Linked DNA regions of Homo sapiens. The protein of the gene in region 1 interacts with the protein of each later gene in a pairwise test. Each region holds a gene or a part of one and is shown in the gene's direction. Other genes may lie near its edges.

Region 1 (7,775 bases):
TATGATTCACGTCCAGCAGGGGGGTGTGTGTGTGTGTGTGTGTGTGTGTGTGTGTGTGTGTGTGTGTGTAATTCCAAAGCTGGTGCTTTTAACCTCTACCTTGCAATGACTTAAGGTCCCTGGGTATGAAGGAGAAAACGGGATGAGTTATCTGTGTTACCGCATGTCATTAGAGGTGAGGACATAGGTGAGCTTTCTACTCATTTTACAATCTAGAAAACAAGACCAGAGGGAACCTGTGTCCTGTCAGTGAACCATAACAGAACTTGAATCCAGGTCTCTCACCTCCTCCTCCCTGCCTACCCCATCTCCATGGGTTGGACTGATTGATTACCTGAGAGATCAGTTGGGCACAACACAGTATTCCACACTTCTAGGGGCTTGGAAGAGGGCATACATAAACACCAACCAGTGCCCTGCCAGTAGGGCAGATGGCATGGGAATTTGTCCTACTGTTAAGGAACAGCTAGTACTGGGGACAGCAAAGGATAACTGAAACATTAGTTAAAAGATGCCTCTCCCTTTAATCTCCTTGAACATAAATTATGATAATCAGTAACAAGGAGAAATTAGAAAGCTGAGATAATAAATGTGACAGAGCTTTGTAAACTCTAAAGTATTATATACAGGATGTTCTGAATATCTATTGAAACAAGGGGCATGTTGTTAATACCCATTTACCAAAAAGAAACAATCTATCAGGTAGCTAGGGAACTGCTGCCTGCCATGGGGGGCAGGTCTCTCAAGGCTAGGAAACACCCTGCTTCCTGAGAACTCTTTTGTAACTCTCAGCAAGGCTAAGAGCATCAATGTTTCTTTCCAATGTTGCCAATGAGTGTCTCTGTCTCCTCCTCCCAGGTCTCAAGGCTGGCTGAGTAGCTGGCTGCCCACGTGGCGCCCCACTTCCATGTCTCAGCTGAAGAATGTGGAAGCCAGGATCCTCCAGTGTAAGTAGAATGGACAGCTTGTCCCACCTCCCTCATGGAGCCCAAGAAGGATTCAGGATCTTCCCAGAGCCTGCTACATTGAGCCCACTGATTCCTAATTAACAGTGTGTATGGGGTGGGAGGAAAGGATGTCAGTTGTGTGAGGGAAGAGGTGCATACAGACGGCACCATATCTGATAATAGTGCTTCCTCACCATCTCCCTAGCCATGTGGATAGTTCCTGCCACTTCCTGCAACTTCACCTCAAACCCTATGCCAGTGCCGGCTAACACACACAAACACGTACATTCTCCCCTTCCTCCTTCCTTCTCCCCCATTTCTCTCTTCCTCCCCTCCTCTCTTCTCACCACACAAGTACTTCTTAGATTTACCACCTGCAGATCCTTGGCCAGCAATCTTGCATTCTCTGATGTTACTATTCCTGTGTTCTACCTGGTTTTGGCCCCCCACCTATCTGGTTACCACAGTAGTTTGTGGTTTGCAGACCAGCTGTCATCGGCACTGTTACATTGCAGCAGGGCATCCCACTAGCGGCAGCAGCCACTCGCTCAAACAAGCCCCTTAAGCCACTTCTTCCCATATTTCCCTTATGATCTTCACCACACCCCTACTGCCCCAGCCATAGCTACCCTTTCTCTTCTGGGCCCGAGTAAGTGCAGACAAACAGCAGCCAGAGCTCTCAGGCCTCTGTCCAGGATCCAGGCTGCTTCACCCAGGCAGCTCTTCCCGGGAGACTGCTGTCACACCAGCAGAACAAGCACTGCCCCACCTCAGTCTCTCACCCGAGGCTCAGTCCACACCCATCACTCCCTCCAACTGGCTGGACCACAGTTCTGTCCATCCATCAAGCCCCAAGCACACACAGGTTCAAGAGCAATAGATGCAAGAGCTCTGTGGGGTTGGTGGTGTCACTACCACCTGGGGCTAAAGGGAGCTGGGCACGCTGTTTCAAGGGATAAGACGGTCCCGCTTATTATGTACAGACTACATGGTCTGTAAATGTGATTGGAGTTGAATTCTTTAGAGTGTGTAGTGTTAAAGAAAAAGTGATTCTGACAGATTAAATCGGTAAAGATCATTCAAAACTACTGCAATAGGGGAGAGAGATCAGGCTCAACTCTTGAATACATTAAGGACTAGTGGGGATTTATAACCAAGCAGCATGGTGAGGGGGGTCAGTGGATAGAAAATTGCTGAGGAGATATCAAAGATAAAGGGAGATATCAAAGATAAAGGGAGTTCTTTTCAAACCAGTTTAACAGGATCATTGCTGAAGGAAGGTCAAAGGTGAGGGATGAGGAACTTGATCAAATATGAAGGAATTCTTACTAACTGATGTATGACTTACTCATCCTGACTTTGCAGGATTCTTGCTAAGACTGAGCTAGACATTTGGAAGACAGGCCAGGGGCCAAGGTCAAAGCCTAGTCAAGAAGAGGGCTCAGAAGGGCTTGCCTAAAGTTTGGTTAAGGAGAGAGTTGTTTTCAGTGGTCAGAGGGTTGTGAGAGGAAGGAGCTGAGGGAAGTTGGGGAGGGTTCGGGAATGGAGAGAATGTGAAGAGTGGTAGTCCAGGCAAAATGATGATGCCGTCAGGAAACACTTATTGACTTACCATGGGATTCTTTCCTCCCCAGGTCTCCAGAATAAGTTCCTGGCCAGATATGTATCCCTCCCAAACCAGAATAAGATCTGGACGGTGACTGTGAGCCCCGAGCAAAACGACCGCACCCCCTTGGTGATGGTGCATGGTTTTGGGGGCGGCGTGGGTCTCTGGATCCTCAACATGGACTCACTGAGTGCCCGCCGCACACTGCACACCTTCGATCTGCTTGGCTTCGGGCGAAGCTCAAGGCCAGCATTCCCAAGGGACCCGGAGGGGGCTGAGGATGAGTTTGTGACATCGATAGAGACATGGCGGGAGACCATGGGGATCCCCAGCATGATCCTCCTGGGGCACAGTTTGGGAGGATTCCTGGCCACTTCTTACTCAATCAAGTACCCTGATAGGTAATAAGGAGATGGCTCCATCCCTCGTGACCTAATTCCTGGCCTTACTGGGAACTTTCCAGTATTCATTTCCAAACTTCTCTCATTCCCAGGCGATTTAAGGGGCTATGGCAACTACCAGAGAATATAATGTGTCTTCTCCTCTTTCCGCCTTTAACATAGAGTTAAACACCTCATCCTGGTGGACCCATGGGGCTTTCCCCTCCGACCAACTAACCCCAGTGAGATCCGTGCACCCCCAGCCTGGGTCAAAGCCGTGGCATCTGTCCTAGGACGTTCCAATCCATTGGCTGTTCTTCGAGTAGCTGGGCCCTGGGGTGAGTAGCCTGTAGTATCTCCTTAAAGGAAGGCTATAACGTTCTAGAAGGCCCACAGTGTCTTTCCCACTTATTCCTAAAAAGTGGAAATTGGCCTAGCCTTGTTATTTAAAGCTGTTAATCTGAACCAGATCACTTTGTTCAAGGTTTGAGAAGGTTTTTTGTTTTTTTGTTTTGTTTTGTTTTTTTGAGACAAAGTCTCGCTCTGTCACCCAGGCTGGAGTGCAGTGGTGCGATCTCGGCTCACTGCAAGCTCCGCCTCCCAGGTTCATGCCATTCTCCTGCCTCAGCCTCCCAAGTAACTGGGACTACAGGCACCTGCCACCATGCCCGGCTAATTTTTTGTGTTTTTAGTAGAGACGGGGTTTCATCGTGTTAACCAGGCTGGTCTCGATCTGACCTCGTGATCCGCCTGCCTCGGCCTCCCGAAGTGCTGGGATTACAGGCGTGAGCCACCGCGCCTGGCCTGTTTTTTGTTTTTTGTATTTTTTCTCTTCATCGGCATGGGAAAAGCTTTTCCTATGCCAGGAACAGGTGGAGCAGAATAGCTACCAGAGTCTCACTCTATCTCCCAGGCTGATGTGCAGTGGTGTGATCTCAGCTCACTGCAACCTCCGCCTCCTGGGTTCAAGCCATTCCCCTGCCTGAGCCTCCTGAGTAGCTGGGACTGCAGGTGTACCCCACCACACCTGGCTAATTTTTGTGTTTTCAGTAGAGACGGGGTTTCACCATGTTGGCTAGGCTGGTCTTGAACTCCTAGCCTCTAGTGATCCATCCGCATCAGCCTCCCAAAGTGCTGGGATTACAGGCATGAGCCACCACACCCAATCTGTGTGAAATTTTATGAAAACCTGCTGGTGATTCATGCCCAGTAACCACTGGATCCCATCCCTGTGGTTCACCCAACACCTGCAGCAGGGAGAGGTCAGAACCAAAGCCTCCAACATAACCCACAGTGGCAGGCAAGCCCCTCTGAACCATGCACTTGTCCAGGCAAGCACCACATCTTCACCTGCTCTGTGTCACCTAGCACTTGGTAGCTGTCAGCAAATTCTGTGGGTAAAAGGGAGAAAAGGAGGTGGAGGACCATGGGGAGCTAGCCATAATGAATAGTATCAATATCTCCAGCCTTCTGACCTCACACTGCCAGCACCCTTCTCCGCTGGGGAGCTTTTTACTCTGATGAAGTGCAAAGCAGAAAAGTGCAATCTTTTCCAATGGAAAAGATTGGTGATGCCTGTCTTGTACTGATGATTGTGCTTACAGAGTAATATTCAATAGCCAATTATTATGAGTTAATTGCTGATGGCTAAGTAAGAGTTATCTCTCTAGGTCCTTCAAGAAAAACAGAATGATTCCAGATAAAGAAAAAAAGCATTTGATTAGAAGATAGGAGTTTAGGAGTTCTGAGAGAGAGGAAGGATACCAAGACACGGGTGCCAAAGGACAGTAAGTGGGCAGAGGCTCCCAGCACCGTGGTCTCCAACAGAGTCTATAGTCCTTTGCCAAAAAGAAGGTCTGCTCGAGCTACTCTCCCCTATTCTCACCTCTGGCCAGGCTCATGCAGGAGCATCAGAGCTATCATAGTTGGGGAAGTTGGCCAGCAGCCATGAGGGACTATGCAGGAGGGAGGGCCAGGCCCATGCAGATCCTCATGGCACCCCCAACCCAGCCCCTTCTTACCTCCCTCTTGCTTCTCATAAACAGAGAGAAGACCAGAGAGAAAGAGAGAGATCAGGGATCAGAAGTTGACCAGTAGACCTCATTTTTACAGTCTGTTGTTGCATGTATGTATACCATAATGAGGTGAAACGAACAGATTGTTGTAAAACAGTGCCCTGAGTCTGAGACACGATTGTGTTTAGTTCACCTCTCCACATATTCTAATACAGGCCTGAAAATGAGAGCGCTGTCGGGAGGTGGTCTAGTTCCATCCGCTACCATCAGAAGATTAAAAGGCCATAAGGGTGTCTGGGAGAAGGAGAACATAGCTCAGGCTATAAGAGAAGAGCATCTCAGCCATGGATTCTGATGGGGAGGGCTTGTGATTCTTGCAGGGAAAGATCTCGGGGCTTCATTGAGCTGAAAACAACCTGGCTCCTCAGTGTTGTTAGATTGTCTCTAAATTCTCTGGTAATGAGCTGACTTTGTGATTTGAAGTCACCTGGACCTTCCCAGTAGATTCCTGCACTCTTTCTGCCGCTGTAGTGTTAAATGAATAAAGCAAACAAACCCTTAGGAGAAATAAGGTTTAGTTAAAGTTCTCAAAACATACACAGGCAGGAGTCTTCCCTGCCCCACCTCCCAAATTGGCCTGTCTGTGTTTTTCTATCCCCTCCCAGGGCCTGGTCTGGTGCAGCGATTCCGGCCGGACTTCAAACGCAAGTTTGCAGACTTCTTTGAAGATGATACCATATCAGAGTATATTTACCACTGCAACGCACAGAATCCCAGGTGAGGGCCGCTCCCCAGGCCAGCTTGGGGCAGACAGTTGTTAGGAGATAAAACTCTTAGCTGCTGGAGTTCTGGGCTTTATTTCTTCTTCAACAAAGCTCTGACTCAGTTAGGTAAACACAGGCACTAGCAAGCCTGATCATTTCCAGAGAGTTCCCCAGGGACAGACACAAAGGAATACAGAAGATAATAGATTAATTAAACATGCTGCCCATCTCTAGAGGAAGGCCCTCCCTGTTCCCTACAGGTATGCAATTGGCCTGATGAACAAGAGTCTGGAAAATATTAATATTTTAAAAGATTTTTTTAACTGAAAAATTGATACAAACATGGTATTTTTTTTCTTTTTTTAGGTCAAAAATAATTAGCAAAAACATGATATTTTTCAAAAGGAAAGGAAGTCTTCTCCTGTCCCGGGCCTGTAGTCCCTACATTTCCTTATTATTTCCAGTCTAACATAGCACATGTACCATTTCTTCAGAGGGCCTCCATGTACATATTCCTTTGTACACACATGTGACTGTATCTGTTGAACACATTACTACCAATAGAATTTCTCAATGAAAGAGCATGCATTTTAAAATTTAATTATGTGCATTTGAAATGCCTTATCATTGAGACAGAAATTTTTTTGCATCTTTGGGAGATTTGGGGGTGTCTCGAGAACTTTGAAAAGTTCCTATCTGGGGCTGCTTATTTACACAGCAGGCCCCACAAGCCTACCTACCTGCAGTTTGGGCACCGTGGATGGCAGGGCAGTCAGGGAGGTAATCCTCTTATGTGGAAGTGCCCTGTGACTGGCTGATACCACGAGGCCATGTTGGTGACACCCCGAGCTGCTGGGAGGTATCTCAGCAAAGGCAAGCTTACTGCCCTACTCCTTTCTAGGGCTGTCCAAGTCACTTGTTGGGAGCCCAAAGCCATGAGAAAGGCAGAGATTTGCATTCCAGCAATACTGTCTGAACATTAACCTCAAACCCCAACAGCTGTTGGGCAGTGTGTGAGCTGTCTGTCCAGCATTCCACATGAGCTCAGCTAATTGAAGAACCCTGATCAAACAGTAGTATAGAAACTCCCAGCTCAGCAGTCAAATCAGGTTCCCCTGTCTTCCTGCCGTTGGCCCTTCTCTCAGCCCCCATGGGCTCAGTGCCTGTCTCATACCCACCTGAGGCCCCACAGGCCCAGCCCTAGCCCTTTCCCCAGAACTTTCCCCATCCCAGACCTAGTTCTGTACAATGTCCTCCCAACCTAAGCCACAGAGTATATAAGTTTATAATTCATTCACATCCCAGAGGAAGCAAAGGTGACATCAGTGACAACCAGCTCCCTCACCCCCAAACACCGTCACTCAATTTTGTAACTCCCTGAGTTTTTTGACTTTGTAACCCTGACAAGCTCATGGTAACTCTTATCATTTCCTTGGAAAACATGAAATTTGACCAACATGTTTGAGGGTATCTACTTCATCTCACCTAAACTTAGGGGCTTTGTATATATTTTTATTTTCCTAATGATGTCCTAGTGAAGTAGGTATAATACTCTACATTTATAGATGAGGAAACTAAAGTATATTCTGGTTACATGACTTGCTAAGAAAACACAGCTGAGGATTTGAATTCATTTGACTCCAAATTCCATGCTTTTTCTGCCGTGCTGCAGTATCTTAAGGAAAAATTTATTTCTGATGGCCTGGGCAGAACTCAGGTTCCCTTTCATCTGTACATGTAAAAGAGAATGGAGATCTGATGGTACTAAACAGGCCAAGCCTAGGAGGCAGCAGTGTCCCCAACCTGCCCTATCTCTAGCAGAAGCTGCAGACCAGCCCCAGAAAGCTGGCTCTGCCCCAGCCTTGTGGACACCTCATGATACGGCCTCAATTCATTCTACCTGAGCAAATGACCGGGGAGTGAAATAGATTACATTGGCATTTGTTGTTTCTTGCTTAACAGAAACTGCTGCTCCCCCAGCCCTTGGAAGACTGATTTTTAATTCCAGAGTCTTCTCAGGAAGCCCTTTTTACTACTATAGTACTCACTTTTAAGCGTTCACC
Region 2 (7,450 bases), on another chromosome or scaffold:
AGTTATTCAGACCACTACAAATGTAATAGTAATAGACTGTTAGCTTTGAAGGGTTGTCTGTAATTATTATGTGGTAATTATGTAATCCTTCTAATGCCCACATGCGTAAATTTTGATATGACTGATGTCCAACCCACCACTAAATAAATAAGCTTTTTGATGGGTTTTTGTTTTGTTTTTTTGAGACAGGGTCTTGCTCTGTCACCCAGGCTGGAGTGCAGTGGTGCAGTCTCGGTTCACTGTCGCCTCCGTCTCCAGGGCTCAAGCAATCCTTCCACCTCAGCCTTCTGAGTAGCTGGGACTACAAGTGCACACTACCACACCTGGCTAATTTTTGTATTTTTTGTAGAGACGGAGTTTTGCCATGTTGCCCAGGCTGGTCTCAAACTCCTGGTCAAGCAGTCCGCCCGCCTCGGCCTTCCAAAGTGCTGGGATCATAGGTGTAAGCCACTGTGTCTAGCCAATAATTAATTTATATTAGATATTTTTGAATGTTAAATTCTTTTTTTTTATTTTATTTATTTTTTTAAGACGGAGTCTCACTCTGTCACCCAGTCTGGAGTGCAATGGCATGGTCTCAGCTCACTGCAAGCTCTGCCTCCTGGGTTCAAGCGGTTCTCCTACCTCAGCCTCCCAAGTAGCTGGGACTACAGACGCGTACCACCACACCTGGCTAATTTTTGTATTTTTAGTAGAGATGGGGTTTCACTGTGTTGGCCAGGCTGGTCTCGAACTCCTGACCTCGTGATCCACCCGCCTAGGCCTCCCAAAGTGCTGGGATTACAGGCGTGAGCCACGGCATCCGGCCTTGAATGTTAAATTCTTAAGGCTTCTTACTGTCAAAACAAATTTAAGGCATTCACAAACTGTGTACCAATAAGTTTTGGAGAATAATTATGGGTTCTATAAGGATGCATTTTTTATCACTGAATTTTAAAATATTGATTGATAATTGGTGGCCTTCATGGCATTTTCATATTTTAGTTAACAGAATCATTTTTGAGGGAGTTGTTTTTCCTGCCATTTTCGTACCACCTGGATCCCTACCACAGCCAAGTTACAGGTCAAGATTTTAATATGCCATGTAATTTGAACTTTTAAGAAAGTTTATGGCTGGGCACGGTGGCTCACGCCTGTAATCCCAGCACTTTGGGAGGCTGAGGCAGGCAGATCACGAGGTCAGGAGATCGAGACCATCCTGGCTAACATGGTGAAACCCCACCTCTACTAAAAATACGAAAAATTAGCCGGGCATGGTGGCGGGCGCCTGTAGTCCCAGCAACTCGGGAGGCTGAGGCAGGACAATGGTGTGAACCCAGGAGGCGGAGATTGCAGCGAGCTGAGATTGTGCCACTGCACTCCAGCCTGGGTGACAGAGCAAGACTCCGTCTCAAAAATAAGAAAAAAAAAAAGTTTATATGCATTTGTATGTAAAGTATTTTATAATCTTTAAAGAAACAACGGTCACATTTCTTGCCAGTGTCCTCCTGCCTTTAAAAATTCTCTTTTCTGGTTGGGGAAATGATGTTTGGTAACTGTTTTTACTATGTCTGCTTCTTTGCAAAGCTTTGTCTTTAACAGAGTAATATTCTATGCTAAAATAGTCATTATTTTTAGAAAGAAAATTGTTCAGTTGCTGGTTTCTTATTTTATATATTCTTCATTAAACAGAGTTGATCAAGAACTTAATGGAAAACAAGATGAACCGAAAAATGAACAGTAAGTTTGGCATCTAGTCCAAACAAGACTGAAGAATGTGCTGATGGAGCAGTGCTGTTTCTGCATTCATAATGCATTTATTGGCCCATATTTTTATGTAACCTGTTACAAAATAGACTTGACTTTTTCATAATGGACTTTTGTATTATACAAGGGACTGTTCACTGCTGTACTGGTTTGCAAATTTCTTGAATTTAGCTCTTTAATAGCTAACTGTATTATTATCGTTTTATATTTTATATTGCTAAATAGAGAACCACACTTTATATAAAGTAGTTTTTGCATTTGTTTATTGAATGATGCATCTTCTTCGGTGAAATATTTATATGCATAAATGGCAAAGGAAAGAAATAATATATATTTTTATGTCATTGAGCAATATTTTTTAATGTGTACCTGTCTTATGGAAGAAATATGCAGGTATATAAGACCACGATTTTCTAAAGTGCATATTAGAATTTTTGTTTTTGTAAATGGTTAAATACATTTCCTGGGTAACTTAGGAAATTAAGTTTTTCATAAGGCAACAGATGGTTAAACTGATTGTCATGAATACCCAAAGATCATGTATATAATCGAAGTGTATTAGTACCATCCCAAGGTTTTTTTCTCATTTAACATATTTGTTTCATAATTCAGCAAGTACAGATGCAAGCGCATTGCACACTTTTTCCTTTCTAAACTTAAAGACAAGTCAAAAAGCCATTCTTAGAACTAGAGGATTTAAGAGGGTAGGAATTAGGGTTTGTATATATGTATATATGGGACATTTTATCTTCTGGCCCAAAGTCAGAACTTTATAAAAATCTTGAGTTTGTTCACTAATGTGAAATAAGCTATGTGTCCAGGGTATTGCTCCCCTGAGTGTATATGAGTGCTGAGTAGTATTGCAGAGAATGTGATGAGTTATTCACTGTCACAACTTTTTCTATAGAAAACAGGGGCTGCTTTTTAAACTCTCACTATGGGCACTTTACCAAAATACTTCCATATCAATTATTTGAACTCGGTAGTTGTTTGACCTAGTTAGATGTGGTGTTTATTCAAGTTTGTATGAAATCATGTTTGACAATACTGTAAATTAGGTTAATTTTGTAAGTCTTAGCATCATCATATTGTGCTGTTTTGGATAACACGTTTGTTACAAGCATTTAAACTGTTTCATTTGGTAGTACCTTTACATTGAAATAAATTGTGTTTGTGCCTCCAAACAAAAAGTTTAATTACCGACAAAATTATTTCTAAAACAACAGATTGATCTGATATTGTGTCATATACTTGAAAGGCTCATACACAGCTGGTAAGCATAATACCTTCCAAATTTGAAGGTCATGGCTACTCTTCAACCCTTCCTGTAAGGTATTTTACAAAACAGTGGCCTAGAGTAGCAAAATTGAAGTGGATGTGAGCTAACCTTTCAAGATTTAGTCTATCCTAGATTGAACACACATGTGGCTGTGACCATTCTCATGTACTTACAAACCTTCTGTTACAAAAGGGAACTTTCCTATATTTTTTGTCCTCCTCAGTCCTAAACTTGGCATGCTAACTTAAAACCAGTTATAGGAGAGAGATGCTGGAGGATTCCCAGGATGAAACATTCCTCAGCAGCCTCCTGACTTAACTCAGATCCAGCAGCTCTTGGCAGATCCTGAACTAATGTCATTACAGTGAATTGAGCCAAAACGATTATTGCTTGCTCACATTTTAGGAACACTTGTTGTTGAAGAAGCAAACTAACAATAACAAGTTAGGCATTCCTTCTGAATTTACCATATAAGGATTATGTATAAACAATTATATTGAATTTGTCATTAGATTCTATATTTGTAGACGATTTAACGTAGTCTTTCATCTGTACATCTTTATCTTGCTCAAAATGGGCTGAGGTTTTTAATAGGTGGTTTTCTACCACATTAAGTACTTGGTTCTTCAGTTTAAAAAATATGAAGAATAACTTCAACTCTTTTTTGCATTATTTTGATTTTTGATTTTGCAGTCATTGCTCCTAACTGTAGATACATGTTGCAAAAGTGATGTTTTTCTGAATTTTTTTTAAAAGTAGAAGACTATTCTGTTAAACATTAAAATTCAGAGACAACAGTGATAACACCTGGGATATAATGAAAATGAGGTGCTGTGAATCAGTAAACTAAAGGGATACCTGCTTTAACCTGCACCTTAATGGAATCTGGTATAGAGATGTACCCACAATAAATGTTTTATAAGATTTAAGATCATAATAGTAGGTTAGAGGAAGAGCATTTATTAAGTCTGTTGTTTCTAATCTATAGCTAAGTTAACATTTCCCATATTATTCCATTTTAATTTCCCATTACTGACCAAGGTGAAAGTATATGTGATTGTACTTTTATCTTTCTGTTGGGATCATGGATCTAATTTAACTGGCTTAATTTGATGCTTCTGTCACTAGGCTCTAAGTGCCCCTTTTTTAGTCAGAAGTTTTTCATGTGAAATAATTTGATTCTGTGTTCTGCTTGATCATACTCCTAAGCAAGCACCAAGGGAAGACGTTCTATTCACCCCACAATTTAAGCTTAACAATCTTTAACTCAGAGGGAGATATGAAGAAATATGATTCTAAGTAGGGTCTAGCAGAGGCATTGGAAAGTGATAAAAGTAGGAAGTAAGAGAAAGCAAACCTTTATAAAGAGATAAAGACATAGTTGTTACCTAAGATGCCACTGTATGTGTGCCCTCTCTTTTTTTTTTTTTTTTTTTGGAGACAGAGACTCACTCTGTCACCCATTCTGGAGTGCAGTGGCGCAATCCTGGCTCACTGCAACCTCTGCCTCCCGGGTTCAAGCATTTCTCCTGCCTCAGCCTCCTGAGTAGCTGGGATTACAGGCACACGCCACAATGCCCGGCTAATTTTTGTATTTTTAGTAGAGACGGGGTTTCGCCATGCTAGGCTGGTCTCGAACTCCTGACCTCATGATCTGCCTGTCTCAGCCTCCCAAATGCTTGGATTACAGGCTTGAGCCACCACGCCCGGCCATGTGTGTCCTTTTAAGGGAAGTACCATATGTGACTGCTGATGGTAACATTTCTTGTATGCAGCAGGAAAACCTGCAGGCTATACGCAAGGTATGTGAATAAAGACTGTGGATTGAAGGGGGAAAAGTTGATAATACATACCCATGATAAGAATTCATATTTTCTCTTTCTTTGTCTCTTCATACAGAAGCAAGTTCGAGCAGAGAAGGTTAGCAGTTACAGCACTTAAAAGTTTAGGATTGAGGGTTTTTGGTTGGTTTTTTTGTTTTTTCATATTTCACTGTTGCTGAACATTGATTTAGTCTTCCAAAATGGACATCACTAGTAAGTGCACTGAATACTGAAATATGCTGATTGGCAAGCATATATCTGTAGCTAGAATTTTTTTAACCGTAATTCCAGAATTTAAAAAGGTAAGAGATCTGCTTTTTGATAGAGGCCTTTTAAAAAGACTATATAACATTTCTATTTGGCTGTTTATGTGAATGCTCAGGGAATTTGGACATGTGTTTTATACAGAAGTGGCTTTTTATATTTCTTCAAGTGATAAATTAGCATTAGGACATATCAGATAGAACAGGCCAGTTTCCTGATGAGATTGGTAGAGATGTTACGGTAGGTTCATCCTTCCTTTTTCCATGTTATATGTGGAGAAGTGTTAAACTTGCTCAAGCAAATGGGAGTAGGAGATAGGCTGAAAATAGAGATTGCTACACCATTCTATTTTGTTTTCATGCCTGTTTTTTCTCCAATCCTATATGGACATTTGAGAAATGGACCACAAATCTGAGAGGGATAGAGTAAAAAGAGGCATTAATGTATGTACTCACAAGTTAGACCTATTTTGCTGTTAAAATAGGTCTGGTCTTGTTATAGGTCATAGGAATTGTGTAGTTTGAGTTGCTGCGAGAAAGAGTCAAGAACTTAGACTTGAATGGGAAGGCCAACTGGTGAGGGAAGTGGGGTATTATCTACTCAAATGTTCTAAGCTAATACAAAAGAATTACCTGGCAAGCATCCCCCTCTGCCCTTCTTGAAATTCTGAATGAACTTAGAATCAGATCAATGGTGAGACCCAGTTATGTAACTTTCCTTTGAAGTTCTAAAGGATAATTGAAAATAAAGTAGTCTGGCATGTTTAACAGTAAGGAGTGACACTAAAATTTGAATATAACAGTATGTTGCAACTATTTATAATAGACCTATTTATGTTTTGAGAACTAAGTAAAATGCTATGAAAAATTCACATAAAGCACGTAAGCACCAAATGAAAATCATTTCGTGCTTTCAAATTAATGATACTAGGCTTGTAGGATGTCTTAGAATCATGTTTAACAAGAAGTTAAAATATTTGCATTTTGAAATTTTTATGCAGTTTGGCTAAGGAGGAACTTGGAAAATAACATTCATCAGCTTCTACACTGCACTTTTTGTATGTGGACTTTGTAAAGTTTAATGTCCGTTTAACAGTTGCTTGTTTATTTGTGTAAACCTAGCTAGTAAATATTGATGATGTTCAGGGCCACTGACTTGCACAGCCCTTGGAGCACTATTCACACAGAACACAATTCAGAGTTTGTTAAGACATTAACACACTTTGATATCTATTCCAAAAATACTTTTGTTACCACAGGTTCATTGCTGTCATTTAGACAAAATTAATGTACTGTGATATTTTCCTACTCTTAAGATGATGTTGCCCAGCCGAGTACTGTCAGAAATTCAGTTCTGATGTCTGTGTGTGCAAGATATTAATGTGGTCCCTGTAAGAAATACCAGAGTTGGTCATGATTTACTAAGGAGATGTAATATTTTCTTTGACCTGTTAGGAATATAACTTGTGTCTTGATTTGTTGCACATCATATTTTTTGCAACATTAATGAATTTAAATAAATTAATTGGAACGTTCGTCTTTGTCTTTTTATCACATTTTTCTTTCATTATGCTACTAAATTTTTGCTTTGAATTATCCTATAAACCTCTTAAATAATTTCAGACCTTTACACTTGTTTCCCTTTCTATAGTCTAAGTGCTTCTATTCTTTGGGGATTAGAGAGTTCAGCCTGCTTTATTTTAACATCAAAACAATAATGAAACTTTGTGTTTCATAGTTGAGATTTTTTTTTAATTAATGGGGAATCCAAGGATGAAACCATGAGTGGCTTAAAATGAAAACATGGCTTTTTTTTTTTTTTTTTTTTTTTGAGACAGTTTCGCTCTTGTTGCCCAGGCTGGAGTGCAATGGCGCCATCTTGGCTCACCGCAACCTCCGCCTCCCAGGTTCAAGCAATTCTCCTGCCTCCGCCTCCCGAGTAGCTGGGATTACAGGCATGCACCAACACGCCCAGCGAAATTTTTTTTGTATTTTAGTAGAGACGGGGTTTCTCCACGTTGAGGCTGGTCTCGAATTCCTGACCTCAGGTGATTCGCTCACCTCGGCCTCCCAAAGTGCTGGGATTACAGGCATGAGCCACCGCCCCTGGCCGAAAACATGGCTTAAATAAGAAGAACTTGTTTAGTTCATAGACCTGCTCAGAGGTTCCAGCTGATACCACTTGGTGTTTTTTGTGGTTTTGTTGTTGTTGTTTTGCACATACTCTTTAATCACTATTCAGCTATTTTGTAGGATAAACTGCTCTACACATGACTGCTGGGTTTAAGCCAGTTAGTGTACCATGCACCCTGACACCTAAAACAATTTGTGATTTTGCA
Region 3 (7,000 bases), on another chromosome or scaffold:
AATGCCTTATAGGCCATTGTAAAGGTTTGGCTTCTACTCTATGTGAGATGTGGAGGTACTGGGGACTTTTAACCACAGAAGCAAAATGATCTGTCCTGTGTTTTAATAAGATGCCTGTGGCCACTGTATTAGGAACAGACTGAAGGGGTAAGGCAGGAAGTTGGGAGAACAGTTAAAAGGTTCTTGCAGTGATCTGGCTGGAGGTGATGATGGTGGCTTGGTTCCTTGTGTAGCAGTAGGGGGTAAGAAGTATCAGATTCTTGATATATTTCAAAGGTAGAAGTAATGGGATTTGCTTATGGATTGGCTTATGGATTGGGCATGGGTCAGAGGGGTTAAGGACAAGGACGAGCTTTTTAGCCTGAACAGATGGAAGGATAAAATTGCCACTGAGCTGGAGAAGACTGGGTAGAACAGGTTTTGTTGGGGTGGGAGGTTGTGGTGGGTGGGAGGATATGGAATTTAGTCCTGGACATTTGTTTGAGGTGTCTGTTTGTTAGATACCTACAAGGATTAGTCAAATAGCTAGTTGGATACAGGTGTCAAGAGTTCAAGAAACAGGTCTGGACTGGAGATATAAATTTGGGGGCCACAAGCTTATACATATTAAGCATGAGACTAGATGAGATCACGAAGGTAGTGTAGTTAGGAAACAGGAGGTCCAAAGACTGAACGCTGGGGAGTCTAAGGTTTAGAGACTGGAGAGATGAGAAGCAACTAGCAAAGCAGACTGATAAGGAGTGGCCAATTGAGGTAGCAAGAAAACCATGAGCGTGTGGTATCCCTGGGGCCAAGAACAGAAAGTTTTTCTTTCAGAGAGGAGAAGTGATCTGTCATGTTACATGCTGTCAACAGGTCAAGTAAGATAAGGACTGAGAACTGAGCAGATTTAGCAATGAGGAAGGTACTAGTGATTTTGATAACACAGATTTTGTGGAGTGATATCAAACTCCTGATTGCAATGGATTTGAGAGAATGAGAGAAAAGGGATGAGAGAATATAGATCTTTCTTTTGAGAAATTTCCTGCAAAGGAGAGCAGAAGAATGGGGCTATAACTGGAAGAAGGAATTATGGTCCTGAAATTTTAAAAGTTTTTTTCTTAAGGTAGGAGAAACAAAGCCTGTTTGAAAATTAATGGGAATAATTCAACAGAGCAAAAAATGATGATAGGAGTGAGAGGGTGAATTGTTGGAGCTCTGTCCTTGACCAGTGAAGGATCCAGTATACAGTAGAGGGATTGGTCGAAGAGCTGGAAGTTTATGGTAACAGCAGGGAAATCAGGTTTTATGGTATGCTGTGAGCACATGTGACTATGGGAGCCTACAGAAGTGACTTTCTAATTGTTTCATATTTCTCAGTAAAGTAGGAAGGCCAATTGAGAGAGGATGGGGAAGGAGACAATGGAAAGAGAAGGTATGAAATAGTTGCGAAGGAGAGGGACTGCTCATCTTTTTCTGTAAAGGGCCAGATAACAAATGTTTTAAATTTCGTGGGCTATCATGTCTCTGTTGCAGCTACTCTTCTCTGCCATTGTAGTGTGAAAACAGCCATGGACACTACATAAGCGAGTTTGGCTGCAGTGTGCTGGCCCCTCTAGGACAGTTGGAGAGTAAATGGACTGTCAGGCAGTGTTAAAGGCATGCTTGAGATTTGCGTTCATGAATTTATAGTGAAACCAGTTCTTGTTTATGTTTTTCTCCAGCCATACTCAGCTACATGGGTATAGCTACAGAGTAGGTGGAGAGTTGTGTCAAGGTTGTGATTTCCAGCAAGAACTATGAAGTGAGGGTGGGACTGTGGAGTGGTTAATGCTTGACAATGGAATTTAACCTGAGTAAGGTGGGAAGTGGTGGTGGAAGAACTCTGAATCAGGATAATAGCGGGAATACTCCATCATCATCTACAATGAGCAAAAAAGCAGGGTGGGGAGTGCACTACAAAGATAAAAGGTGATGGTGGCTGAGTGGGATGCTTGATACAAGATTATGGAGGGACTGCAGTATTGGTACTAACAGGGATCCTGGGAGTCAGTGCCATATGTAGGGTGGAATATAAGGGTTATTGGAGGGGAGGAACTAAGAGGTCAGGATATTAGAAGATCATCACATATGTCTACATGGATATTAAAATCATCAATAATTAAAATAGGAGTAGTAGGTCAGGTGCAGTGCTCACACCTGTAATCACAGCACTTCCAGAGGTCAAGGTGGGTGGATTGCTTGAGCTCAGGTGTTTGAGACCAGCCTGAGTAACATGGTGAAACCCAGTCTCTACAAAAAAAAAAAAACACAAAAATTAGCCAGATGTGGTGATGCGTACCAGTAGTCCCAGCTACTCAGGAGGCTGAGATGGGAGGATCACCTGAGCCTGGAGGTTGAGGCTGCAGTGAGCTGAGATGGCATCACTGCATTCCAGCCTGGGTGACAGAGTGAGACCCTGTCTCTAAATAAATAAATAATAGGAGTAGTGTTAGAAAGGAACATTAAGTTAGGAGCTAAAATCTTCAAGAACTAAGGCAAAGTAGCCCAAGAGTCAGGGATGACAGGGAAAGGGAAGGCTACTCAGTGATAGAATCTGATGACATGAGATTCTGAAAGTGGCAATGAAGAACAAAAACAACACCTACCAGATCCATTTGTACTAGGGTCATGAGAGGAAAGAAACAGCCACCACTTGAGAAAGCAGTGTCCTCAGGGCACAGCCAGCTTTCTCTAAGAGCAAGAAGGTAAAGGAAACATTCGGAGGAATGGATGAGGATATAGATTTTGCCAGTGATGGGTCTTGAGTTCCAGAGGGACTCAGATTTTAGAAATTGGAGAAAGGTTTTTGTGTTTTAGAGCTCTGTGGTAGTTAGACATGGGAGTTGTGAGGTTGCCTGACCATGGGGAAGTAAAATCCCAAGACAGTTCTCCAGCAGCACTGATGCCCCAGAAGTGGTATGTTCCCCATTTCTCCCTCACAGACCTCTCTTCTCTGGACTCCTATTTTTGGGCATACAAATCCAGTCTACTTGAATATGTTTTAGGTATTTTTTAACTTGTAGCCTTAACCTCCTCCCACTTTAGGATTGCCAGCTTTTTTTTTTTTTTTTTTTTTTTGAAACAGAGTCTCACTCTGTTGCCCAGGCTGGAGTGCAGTAGCATGATCTCAGCTCACTGCAGCCTCCACCTTCCAGGTTCAAGGGATTCTGCTGCCTCAGCCTCCCAAGTAGCTGTGATTACAGGTGTGGGCCACCACGCCCAGCTGATACTTGTATTTTTAGTAGAGACACCGTTATGCCATGTTGGCCAGGCTGGTTTCAAACTCCTGGCCTCAAGTGATCCACCCACCTCGGCCTCTCAAAATGCTGGGATTACAGGCATGAGCCACCATGCCCAGCCAGGATTACCAGCTTATTTTTAAGAGCTTTCTTTTCTTCTCCCTTCCCTTAGCCTAATCAGCAACCTGTGGTGATGTCATTTCTGTCTACTTCACCCACATTTCTTAGCCTCTTGGTTCTCTTAGATATCAATACTTAAAATCCAATCTTACTTTGTTATGACACATTCCTAAATAGGGGCAAGAGAATTAAAATAAGTTAGGAGGAATTTACATGCTGCCACATTTTAGACTTTTCTCAAAGCTTTTGGATTAACTAGGAATTTCTACAAAGGGTTAGTTAAGGGAAGGACTACATTTTCTCCTTTGCTGTGAACTTGGTTCAGTAATTTTAACTGAGCAAAGGGAGAGCAACTATCAGGCAGCTGGTGGACAAGAAGGGACTCCTTGGCTCTCATCACTAAGGCTCTGGCTCCATCAAGAACAGCTGCAGATTGTAAAATCTCACAGTGGGCCCTGGAGGCTTCTAGACAACCCCTTTCCCCTCCATCTTACACACTGTACTGGTTCTCATAGCACATTCCCTGCCACTTGGTAATTAGAAAGTGGAAGGCTTGGTCTCCTGCAGAAGTAAGAAAATATATTTTTCTTTTTTTTCTATAGAGATGGGCTCTCACTGTGTTTTGGCCAGGGTGATCTCAAACTCCTGGCTTCAAGGAATACTCCTACCTCAGCCTCTCAAAGCTCTGGGATTATAGACATGAGCCACCACACCTGGACAGAATGTTTTCTTGATGAATGTAGTGTCTTGTCACCAACTCAAAGACTTAGAGCAAACTCTTCTCATCATAGGAGAGAATGGTGGCACAATAAGAGTATAAATACAGATTTTAAAAACAATTTAGTATAACAACAATTTATATAGCATTCATGTTGCATTAGGTACTTTAACTAGAGATGGGCTTTTAAAATTTTTTTAAAATAGAGGTGGGGGGTGGGGGTCTCACCATTCATATTGGCCAGGCTGGTCTCAAATTCCTGGCTTCAAGCGATCTTCCCACCTCAGCCTCCCAAAGTGCTGCGATTACAGGCATGAGTCATTATGCCTGGCCGAATTTAAAGTATATGGAAGAGGCCGGGCATGGTGGCTTACGTCTGTAATCCCAGCACTTTGGGAGGCCAAGGCGGGCAGATCACGAGGTCAGGAAATTGAGACCATCCTGGCTAACACAGTGAAACCCCATCTCTACTAAAAATACAAAAAAAAATTAGCTGGGCGTGGTGGTGAGTGCATGTAGTCCCAGCTACTCGGGAGGCTGAGGCAGGAGAATGGCATGAACCCGGGAGGCAGAGCCTGTAGTGAGCCGAGATCGCGCCACTGCACTCCAGGCTGGGTGACAGAGCGAGACTCCGTCTCAAAAAATAAATAAGTAAATAAATAAAGTATATGAAAGCACATAGGTTATATGGAAATACTATGTATGCCATTCTATTTAAGGGCTTGAGCACTCACAGATTTTGGTATCTGTAGGGTTCCTGGAACTAATCTCCTCTCCCCCACCGCCCCCCCAGCCCCCCCCCCCAAACACATATATCAAGGGATGACTGTATTTCTAGTGCTGGGAATGAGGACTTCTCTGATTTGTCGCCATGGGATAAATATGATGACCTAGTTGTCATCAGATTGATAATATATTGATAAGTGAAATCTTACAGGCAAGCACACAGATACAAATAGAATTTGAACACTACTCTTAAGGAATCTCTGCTTCTTTCAATGCTTAAAGGAGAATAGAGGGCAGACAGTTTCGGTGACACTGTCACAACAAGGGGCTAGGCTAGATGACCTTCAAGTATTTTGCTCAAGTATTTAGGATTTGTGCTCTAAGAGGTACCTTCTCCATTTCCTGGAAACCCTCTTAGCCCAGACCACAAACCCCAACATGATCGCACCTGAACATGAGTCATCCAAGTTTTGTTATCTAGTAGCTACATTAGGCACAAAGCTTGCAAGCTTGCATTCCAAAGAAAGAGCTTTGATATATTTTTCTTTCCCTCCTAACAAACAAACAGCGAAGAAAGCTACCGTGAATTTACTGGGTGAAGAAAAGAAGAGCACCTAAACCAGACTGGATGGAAACTTCCTGCCCTCTCTGTACCTTCCTACTGGAGCTTGATGTTATATTAGGGACTGTGGTATAATTATTTTAATAATGTTGCCTTGGAAACATTTTTGAGATATTAAAGATTGGAATGTGTTGTAAGTTTCTTTGCTTACTTTTACTGTCTATATATATAGGGAGCACTTTAAACTTAATGCAGTGGGCAGTGTCCACGTTTTTGGAAAATGTATTTTGCCTCTGGGTAGGAAAAGATGTATGTTGCTATCCTGCAGGAAATATAAACTTAAAATAAAATTATATACCCCACAGGCTGTGTACTTTACTGGGCTCTCCCTGCACGCATTTTCTCTGTAGTTACATTTAGGATAATCTTTATGGTTCTACTTCCTGTAATGTACAATTTTATATAATTCTGAAATGTTTTTAATGTATTTGTGCACATGTACATATGGAAATGTTACTGTCTGACTACAACATGCATCATGCTCATGGGGAGGGAGCAGGGGAAGGTTGTATGTGTCATTTATAACTTCTGTACAGTAAGACCACCTGCCAAAAGCTGGAGGAACCATTGTGCTGGTGTGGTCTACTAAATAATACTTTAGGAAATACGTGATTAATATGCAAGTGAACAAAGTGAGAAATGAAATCGAATGGAGATTGGCCTGGTTGTTTCCGTAGTATATGGCATATGAATACCAGGATAGCTTTATAAAGCAGTTAGTTAGTTAGTTACTCACTCTAGTGATAAATCGGGAAATTTACACACACACACACACACACACACACACACACACACACACAGAGTAACCTGTAACTCTCAATTCCCTGAAAAACTAGTAATACTGTCTTATCTGCTATAAACTTTACATATTTGTCTATTGTCAAGATGCTACAATGGAAACCATTTCTGGTTTTATCTTCAAAGCGGAGAAACATGTTGATTTAGTCTTCTTTCCCAATCTTCTTTTTTAAACCAGTTTAAGGAACTTCTGAAGATTTGTCCACCTCTGATTACATGTATGTTCTTGTTTGTATCATTAGCAACAACATGCTAATGACGACACCTAGCTCTAAGAGCAATTCTGGGAGAATGAAAGGAAGTATAAAGTAACCCATAATCTGCTTGGCAATAGTTAAGTCAATCTATCTTCAGTTTTTCTCTGGCCTTTAAGGTCAAACACAAGAGGCTTCCCTAGTTTACAAGTCAGAGTCACTTGTAGTCCATTTAAATGCCCTCATCCGTATTCTTTGTGTTGATAAGCTGCACATGACTACATAGTAAGTACAGAACAGTAAAGTTAAAACGGATGTCTCCATTGATCTGCCAAATCGTTATAGAGAGCAATTTGTCTGGACTAGAAAATCTGAGTTTTACACCATACTGTTAAGAGTCCTTTTGAATTAAACTCGACTAAAACAAGTGTATAACTAAACTAACAAGATTAAATATCCAGCCAGTACAGTATTTTTTAAGGCAAATAAAGATGATTAGCTCACCTTGAGATAACAATCAGGTAAGATCATAACAATGTCTCATGATGTAAAAAATATTAAA
Region 4 (7,775 bases), on another chromosome or scaffold:
AGAGAAGACAGTTTTAAGTTGGAAATATAATTTTTAGTGATGGAAATAACATTTTTATGTGAAGGTAATTATACCTGTACTGATTCACTGTCAGTGGGATATGCACTTAGATTTGTGGATGTGGGTAGTATGTAAAATTATGTTAGTTTTATTTTACATAGTTAGTAAGTTGTTTTCTGTGCAGTAGATTGGATATTTTTGTCTACTTTAAACGTACTATCTTCCTTGTGACCAGCGGCACGAATTTATCAAGGGTAGGAGTGTTGTTTGTAGCCATGAAACACTTCATCCTCTATGAAGTATATTGCTCCATAGGAAAAACTTGTCATCATTGTCATCATTATTAATGTAGATAACATAATGAGTGTTTACTATGTGCCAGGCACTGTGCTAATATGATAATACATATTATCATATTTAATCTTCAGAACAGACTTATGAGACATATACCGTTATTATCCTCACTTTACAGATGAGAAAACTACAAATTACAGACGTTGAATACATTCCCAGAAATCCAGTCATGTAGGCAGTAACTTGTGAAGCTGGAAAATTTGAATCCAGGCAGTTTGACTCTAGAATCTTTGCCCTTAATGACTGTCCTATACTGCCTACTTTGTATGTGGTCTATAGAGATTTACTGGTGTGTAAAGTATTTGGATCTCTGCCACTTTTTTTGGACACAGGAGGTGAAATGGAAATGATAATGGGGGTTACATGTCTTCCTGCTGATGTTAGGAGAAGCAGCATGGTGTAATGGAAATAGCTTTGGGCCTAGAATAAAAAGATCAGAGTTTGACCTCTGTATCTGTATCTAGAGTGAGATTATTTAAAAGCAATCTAAAAGCAAATGCTGTTGAAGGTTTTATGATTTTATGTAATCACAATATGTAAACATTTCAACTTATATAACTACTATAATTTGTGACAGATGATTTGTTTTGAAGGAAGATTTGCCTTATGATTATTTAATTACTCAGTTACTGCATTAATTTTAAGTCCACCAAACTTTTCAGGAGCATGTCTATTGTGAAACAACCGGGTATGTGTGTATGGTAACACACTTTACTTAACATGCTTAATTTAGTTTTGTTCTTTTTTTGTACTAATTTGCCTACCTATCATATCCAATTTTATTCACAAACTATATAGATATATATCTTTAGTCTTATGCATATATCTATATATGTATCTGTCCCATGGCAGTGTAAGAGTTTGTATTTTTTCATGTGTTTTTATTTACCTTTTGATGTCTATACATGTAAGACATGAGACTCTTTACATCCCTGAAAGCTTGGTTAAGATGGTGTCTGCTAGGTTTATTCACTATAAAGTCACTATTTTTTCTTTTGTAATTACAAAGTGAGACTATGCAGGGCAATATTGTGAGACAATGTAAATATCCTGTTTCTCATCATATATTTGCCCACTAATTTTAGCATATGTTGATGATTCTGGCTTGAATAAATTATTGTTGTGACATTTGCCAGACATTGATTTCAATTTTCAACATTTTTACATTTATTAATTGATTGAATTATACTGTAATAAAAAACTTTCTCTTTACGCTTAATGTATATATTTATTCAGCTGTTTATAGCAGTATGGACTTAATGAATATTTGTTTTATTCTATAGGTTATAATGAATTATGCTCTTACTACTTTTTGTTTTTGCTGAAACCCAGATTTGGCCAACAGGAGCCCCTTCAAATTGGCTCCTGTGTCCTTTCAACATGTCTCCATCATTTTTTAAGCACCCTCTTACTTTCTGGCACCACAGATGTTCCAGACTCTTTTTTTTTTCTTTTTTTTTTTGAGATGGAGTCTTGCTCTGTCACCCAGGCTAGAGTGCAGTGGCGCGATGATCTCGGCTCACTGCAAGCTCTGCCTCCCGGGTTCACACCATTCTCCTGCCTCAGCCTCCCAAGTAGCTGGGACTACAGGTGCCAGCCACCATGCCGGGCTAATTTTTTGCATTTTTAGTAGAGACGGGGTTTCACCATGTTAGCCAGGATGGTCTCGAACTCCTGACCTCGTGATCCACCCGCCTTGGCCTCCCAAAGTGCTGGGATTACAGGCGTGAGCCACCGCACCTGGCCTCCAGACTCATTTTTTAATTTCCTTGCCCCAACTCTGGAATCAGAATCTTTTCTCCAAGGAGCTCTGATTCTTTTTATTGGAGAATGGTATGTAGAAGCCAAGATCTGGGTGCTTGGCATGCTTATTGCTACTGAGGTGTCATTGCCTCTAGGCCCTCTCAGCAGGCAGAACTAGGAAATATATGTATATATGCACACATACCTGTTTCTATATCGATTTCTTGAAGTCCCTCTTTATATATGTCAAAATCATGGATTCATAATGATACATCTGATTCCAGTCCAAGACCCTAGAATAAATATACATGATCTCATTCTCTTCTGGTATTTCTCTTCACACGTTTTGTGGACTTTGTAGAGGTCTTATACAGAGTCTTCAAGAGGTTGGCCTCTGAAGTCAGACATGGAATCTGACTGGTAGATGTGTAACTTTCAGCAAAATAGTAATCTTTGAGACTTAATTTCCTCATTGGCAAAAGGAAGGCCGTAGCACCTATCTCACATATTTTTTTTTTTAGGATGAAATGAGAAAAGTTATGTAAAACATATAGTATTTGACACCATAGTAAATGTTAAATCAATTTTAGATTTCATTATTGTCATTATATTTATTGACTTACCATTTCTTACTACATCAACTCTCAAATCTCCTGTCTGATTTTCAAGGCCTATCATGATCTTTTCCCTTATCCAACCTTATTTTTCATTACAGTTTATAATATACTCCCTCCAGTCTAGCCTAGGTAAGCTTTCCTACAATCCCGTGAGCACTGCATACACATTTTGGCCCTCCATCTTGATTAGAATTTTGTGGATTCAAGTCTTTGCTCAATTCCAGCAAATGTTTACATTTATTCAGCAGATATTTATTCAGCAACTTCTAAGTACTCAAAAATTCTATTTATGCTGTTCTATTTCTATTCATGGAGGTGTACTGCCTACAAAATCATTTTGTGCTAGACACTATGGCTAAAACCAAATAAAGACAAGGTTCTTCCCTTCATGGTGTTTACATACTGGTGAGAATAGCTAAATAGTCCTGTGAAACTTTCCCTTATTATAGTATCAAATACTGATTGTACCTTTCTTTGAACATTTGTAATATTTAGCCTCTCCCAGTTTCGTATCTGCATGTATTTGGTCTTATAGGCATTTTGTTTTATGACATTTTATCTGTTCTTTTTATTTGATTAAAGTCCCTTTTGAAGCAATAACTATATATTTGTTCATTCAACCAATTCATATGTTGATTTTATATGGTAACAAAAGTAACAGCTGCTCAATGTTGGAAACTTGAAAAACATAAAGAAAATAAAAATATGTCCACAGTTCTACCAGCAGGCCAGAACTGTGCTGGCTGAGCACAGAATAATGGTGTGTGTTTTGATTATTGTTGTTTTTACTATTTTCTTTCCTATATATATAATATGTTTTTAAAAATAAATTTGGCATAGAACAATGACTTGTAAGAGTACAATTTTTGAATTGTAAATGATATGTTAAGGTTTGGATGTGAATCACGAAACTCTAAGCACAATTCATGTTTCAATTGCTATGGTAAAGTTTTCATTTCATGAAGATACTGAATTTTTAAAATACTAAAAAACCTGATTAAATAAACACTAGCTAATAACTAAAAAAAAAGTTGGTTAAAATAAAAAAGTAAGTTGGGCTTATTCTACATATAGTTTTATTTCTTACTGTTTGATCACTTATCAAGCAGTTTCCCATGTTAACATTCTTAGTTTTAAAACGTTATTTTAAAATGATTACATACAACTTGTATTTATACACACTCCAATTTATTTACCTGTTCACTTTTGTAGAGTATATTTTAAAATGTCAAGATTTGTTAGCCATCGTAAGAAGTGCTGCCATGAACATTTCTTATTCCATATTTTTATTATTTTATTGCTACAGCCGCCTTCATGGGGAATTAGTGGGTTAAACGCTATAAGTATTTTTCAAGTCTTTGATACATACAGTAGACCCTGATATTTAAAAAGGCTATATCAACAGAGAAATTATGGTAACTTTTTTAGTGGTTACTATGTTATATCCTGTTAGGTAGCTAATGTTATTTCCACTTTTATATACAAGGAATCAGAAGCCCACATTGGTTAAATAACTTGCCAAAGGTCGTGCAGTTGATACATGATTGGGCCAAGATTTAAACCAAGGCTCTAGAACCTGCTCATGAGATTCTCCTCAATCCCTATTTCATACATGGTAGATAATAGAGAAAAGTAAAGTCATGATGAAAAGTTGAATAATTCTCATTGCCCTTTCTGTAAACCCTTCTGTGACTGGTCACTTAAGATGATTCTGAAGAAAGACTCTCCATTGGCTCATCTTTTAATAAGTCTTTACCATAACTGCCTAGGCCGTTCATCCTTAAGGGCTTAAATTTTAATTTTGTGCACAATATATCCTCCTACTTTTCTCCCCTGGGCAGAAGGTGGAGCTTGCCCTCCACAAATACCTCTCCTACTGATCTCTTCCCAGCTATAACAGTGGTATAACATACTCAAATTCATTGACATTCTCCCTCCCCCAGAAGAGTTTTGTGCATATGCATCTGAAATGAGAGCCCCTTCTGACCACTTTCCCCACCCCTCTCACCAGCCCCTGCACTGTAGCTGTCTTTCAGGCTTACACTTAAATGGCTGTGTCTTTACCTAGTATTGTCCCTAGCTTTCATCTCTCCCTTAGTGATACTCAGAAACTTCCCTTCATTAATTCTTAATCTTTTTTTTCCACTTTGGGGAGATAATATCACAGCCTCAATTCCCTCTTTTTAGAAAATTAAACTGGTTAGTACATACGGAATGTGAGGTCCCCCATCCATTTTGTACCACTCCCAATTTGTAACATACTCACTTTACCTTCTCCTCACATTTCCTCAGTAGCCAAATGACATCATTGCCTGTTTGCCAGCCCTATAGCTTGCGCAATTGAAATTTATTTCTCTGCAAAGTCACAAACTGTTATGCATTGTGGTTTTTCCAGGTGGCATTTGAATAGCTGAACTTTAAGCTCCTGAGTGATAGGGATCTGCTCTTGCCAAATTACTTTCCAGAATGGTTTTACCAATTATACTCCTATCAGTAGTGTATAAGAGTGCCTGTGAGACAGACTTAATTTTTCTTTCCTATCTACTACAGTGACTATGGAATTGATGCTCAATTGATTGCCAGTTGGTTGGCTGATTTGGTCTTAGTCTCTAATGATTTTCTTTTACAAATGTAATCATTCCATCATCTCATCCCCTTGTGATGATAGCAGCTACGGAACAGAAGTAATTTTTGAAAATGTATTCTTTCTAATTAACATTATAAATGAACCACCCAGACACTTAGCTAAATCTTTATTATAAAGATTTGTTTTTAAATAGCAGTAATTCTTGAGGATTTTAGAGAAACACCTTCAGTGTGATATGTGACACATAGGCTTCTTTCATTTTAACAAACCAGATTCTCATTTTATGCAACTTGAACTTATTTACCTCCATAGTCTGTCCAGGTCCACCCACACTTTGTGCCTTTAGCAGCTTCTGCTGGCCTTTAACCAAAAGGGCAGTCTATGATGGTACTTGCTACCCTGTTGAAATGGGAACCTTAAATCCCTTGCTTTTCATTAATTAAAGACAGTCAAAGGCAAATGTTATAAAAGAAACAGGCTTTTGCTAAATTTAATTTTTAACTTTTTTATTTTAATGAATCTGTTATAAATGTCAGATGCTTACTAACTTGTAGAGAATGTAAGTACCATTTACAAGCAAGTTCTATTCTGGTTAATGGAATTGTGTTTTTGACAGTAATAAAATAAGACTTCAAGAAATTCTGTTAAGGAATTTGTATCATGCTATAATTCAATCAAATAATATTTTTCCTGTATATAGGAGAACTGGCTGGTTTGCTTTCAAAATTTCTTACAGTGTATATGACATTAATTGAGTACTGAAAGAGATATGGAACTTTGAGAGGGGCAGTGGTATTAGGAGTGGGACATGACTGATGAATTATTTAGTATATTCTGTGTTTACAAGCCCTCCAAAAGCTTGCTAAAGGAGGACTGGTCCTTCTCTGTCCATATTCTCACAATTTAATTGATGTAGTAAAATGTTTCTGTATGTGGAAGATAGTCATGGTGGTGTCTGTTTATATTAGATAGGTTGTTTTTCTTGCAAGTGCTAAAAAACACTATCTGTCTTAAACAATAAAAACAATTTTTAGCTCACATAACAAGAAGTTTGGAGGTTGATTATCTCCAAAGTTAATTAATTCAGCCAAATAATGACACTAGTAAGGGCCAGAGTTTGTTCCATTTTTCTGTACTGCCATACTCTGCCTATCAACTTGCCCTCTAATATTAGTGCCCCTCATACTCTCAAGATGGCTGCTGCAGTTCCAGGAATCACATGCAGACACTGCAATGCCCACTAGAAAGAGAGTATGAACTATTCATGTGTATCTCTTTTTACTAGCAATGGAAACTTTCTAAGGAGTCCCACAGCACCACCCTGAAAACACCTCTTATTTATCATTGGTTGAAATCGTGTTATATGTATATGCCTACACCAGTACATTGGCAAGTGGTATACGGACATAAACGTAGAGTTAGTCCAGTCACTCACACAACCACCTCTCCCTGCCCTGCGTCTGGCCAAAACACATTGCTACCTAGAAAAGTTGGAGGGTGGAAAATATGTAAATAAACTCATGATGTTTTGGGGGGAAGGAAGAAACAGTTTCTATTTCACAACCTCATGAGTTTGTCCTCAGGATCAGTTGATACAAAAGATTTGTAAGAAACTGGTGTATTTGTTAAATGTGATATATTACTTATCTAGGGAAACGAATGTTTTGTATAGTTCTACAAATGAAAGTTGTTGACTGTTCATAGGCATTTTAGAGCTGGAGGGACATTAGTGATCTTTTAGGTCAGTAGTTCTCAAACTGTGGTCTGTGGACCCCTACGGTTCCTGAAATCCTATTAGAGAACATGAGGAATATTTTAACAGTAATATTATCTTAGTCTGTTTGGGCTGCCATAACAAAATACCTCAGGCTGGGTGGCATATAAACAACAAATTATATCTCATTGTTCTGAAAGCTGAGAAGCCTAAGATCAAGGCAGATCAAACCTAAGATTCAGTGTCTGGTGAGGGCCCTCTTTCTGGTTCACAGATGTTATGGTCTCTCTGTGACCTCACATGGTGAAAGGGGAAAGGCGTTTTTTTCTCTGGAGCGTCTTTTACAAGGGCACTAATCTCATTCATGAGGGCTTCTCCCCGTGACATAATCATCTCCCAAAGGCCCCACCTCCTAATGCCATCACCTTGAAGATTATAATTTTAAAACATATGAATTTTTTTGGAGGGGACATAAACATGTATCATAGCAAATACGAAGAATGTTTACTTTTCTCACTATGTTGACATTTGCACTGATGGTGAGTAAAATTACTGGTGCAGTGTACCACATTTTCTTAGTAGTTGTATTCGTCATACTCTCAGGGGGGAGAAAGCCAGTTTTACCTCAGAGGGTCCTCAATGTAGCATTAATTTATATTAATTGAATTTTGACCCTTGAGTGTATGTCTTTTTAATATTACATATGACAAAATTGGAAGTATACACAAAGCACTTATGTACGCTGAAGTAAGATAGTTGT

The links.
Region 2: the proteins of ABHD4 (region 1) and BNIP2 interact in binary tests that used the Homo sapiens proteins (3 or more experiments, as listed by UniProt).
Region 3: the proteins of ABHD4 (region 1) and REEP5 interact in binary tests that used the Homo sapiens proteins (3 or more experiments, as listed by UniProt).
Region 4: the proteins of ABHD4 (region 1) and COL4A5 interact in binary tests that used the Homo sapiens proteins (3 or more experiments, as listed by UniProt).

The regions. Positions count from the first base shown.
Region 1 is NC_000014.9:22,600,809-22,608,583, forward strand, and holds part of ABHD4 ((Lyso)-N-acylphosphatidylethanolamine lipase), read left to right. Parts: intron 1-858; coding exon 859-947; intron 948-2,581; coding exon 2,582-2,954; intron 2,955-3,116; coding exon 3,117-3,271; intron 3,272-4,978; exon of another isoform or gene 4,979-5,058; intron 5,059-5,613; coding exon 5,614-5,725; intron 5,726-7,775. UniProt on the Homo sapiens protein: Lysophospholipase selective for N-acyl phosphatidylethanolamine (NAPE).
Region 2 is NC_000015.10:59,658,342-59,665,791, reverse strand, and holds the end of BNIP2 (BCL2/adenovirus E1B 19 kDa protein-interacting protein 2), read left to right. Parts: intron 1-1,671; coding exon 1,672-1,723; 3' UTR 1,724-6,646; downstream 6,647-7,450.
Region 3 is NC_000005.10:112,877,228-112,884,227, reverse strand, and holds part of REEP5 (receptor expression-enhancing protein 5), read left to right. Parts: intron 1-5,392; coding exon 5,393-5,442; 3' UTR 5,443-7,000. UniProt on the Homo sapiens protein: Plays an essential role in heart function and development by regulating the organization and function of the sarcoplasmic reticulum in cardiomyocytes.
Region 4 is NC_000023.11:108,442,419-108,450,193, forward strand, and holds part of COL4A5 (collagen alpha-5(IV) chain isoform 2 precursor), read left to right. Parts: intron 1-7,775. UniProt on the Homo sapiens protein: Type IV collagen is the major structural component of glomerular basement membranes (GBM), forming a 'chicken-wire' meshwork together with laminins, proteoglycans and entactin/nidogen.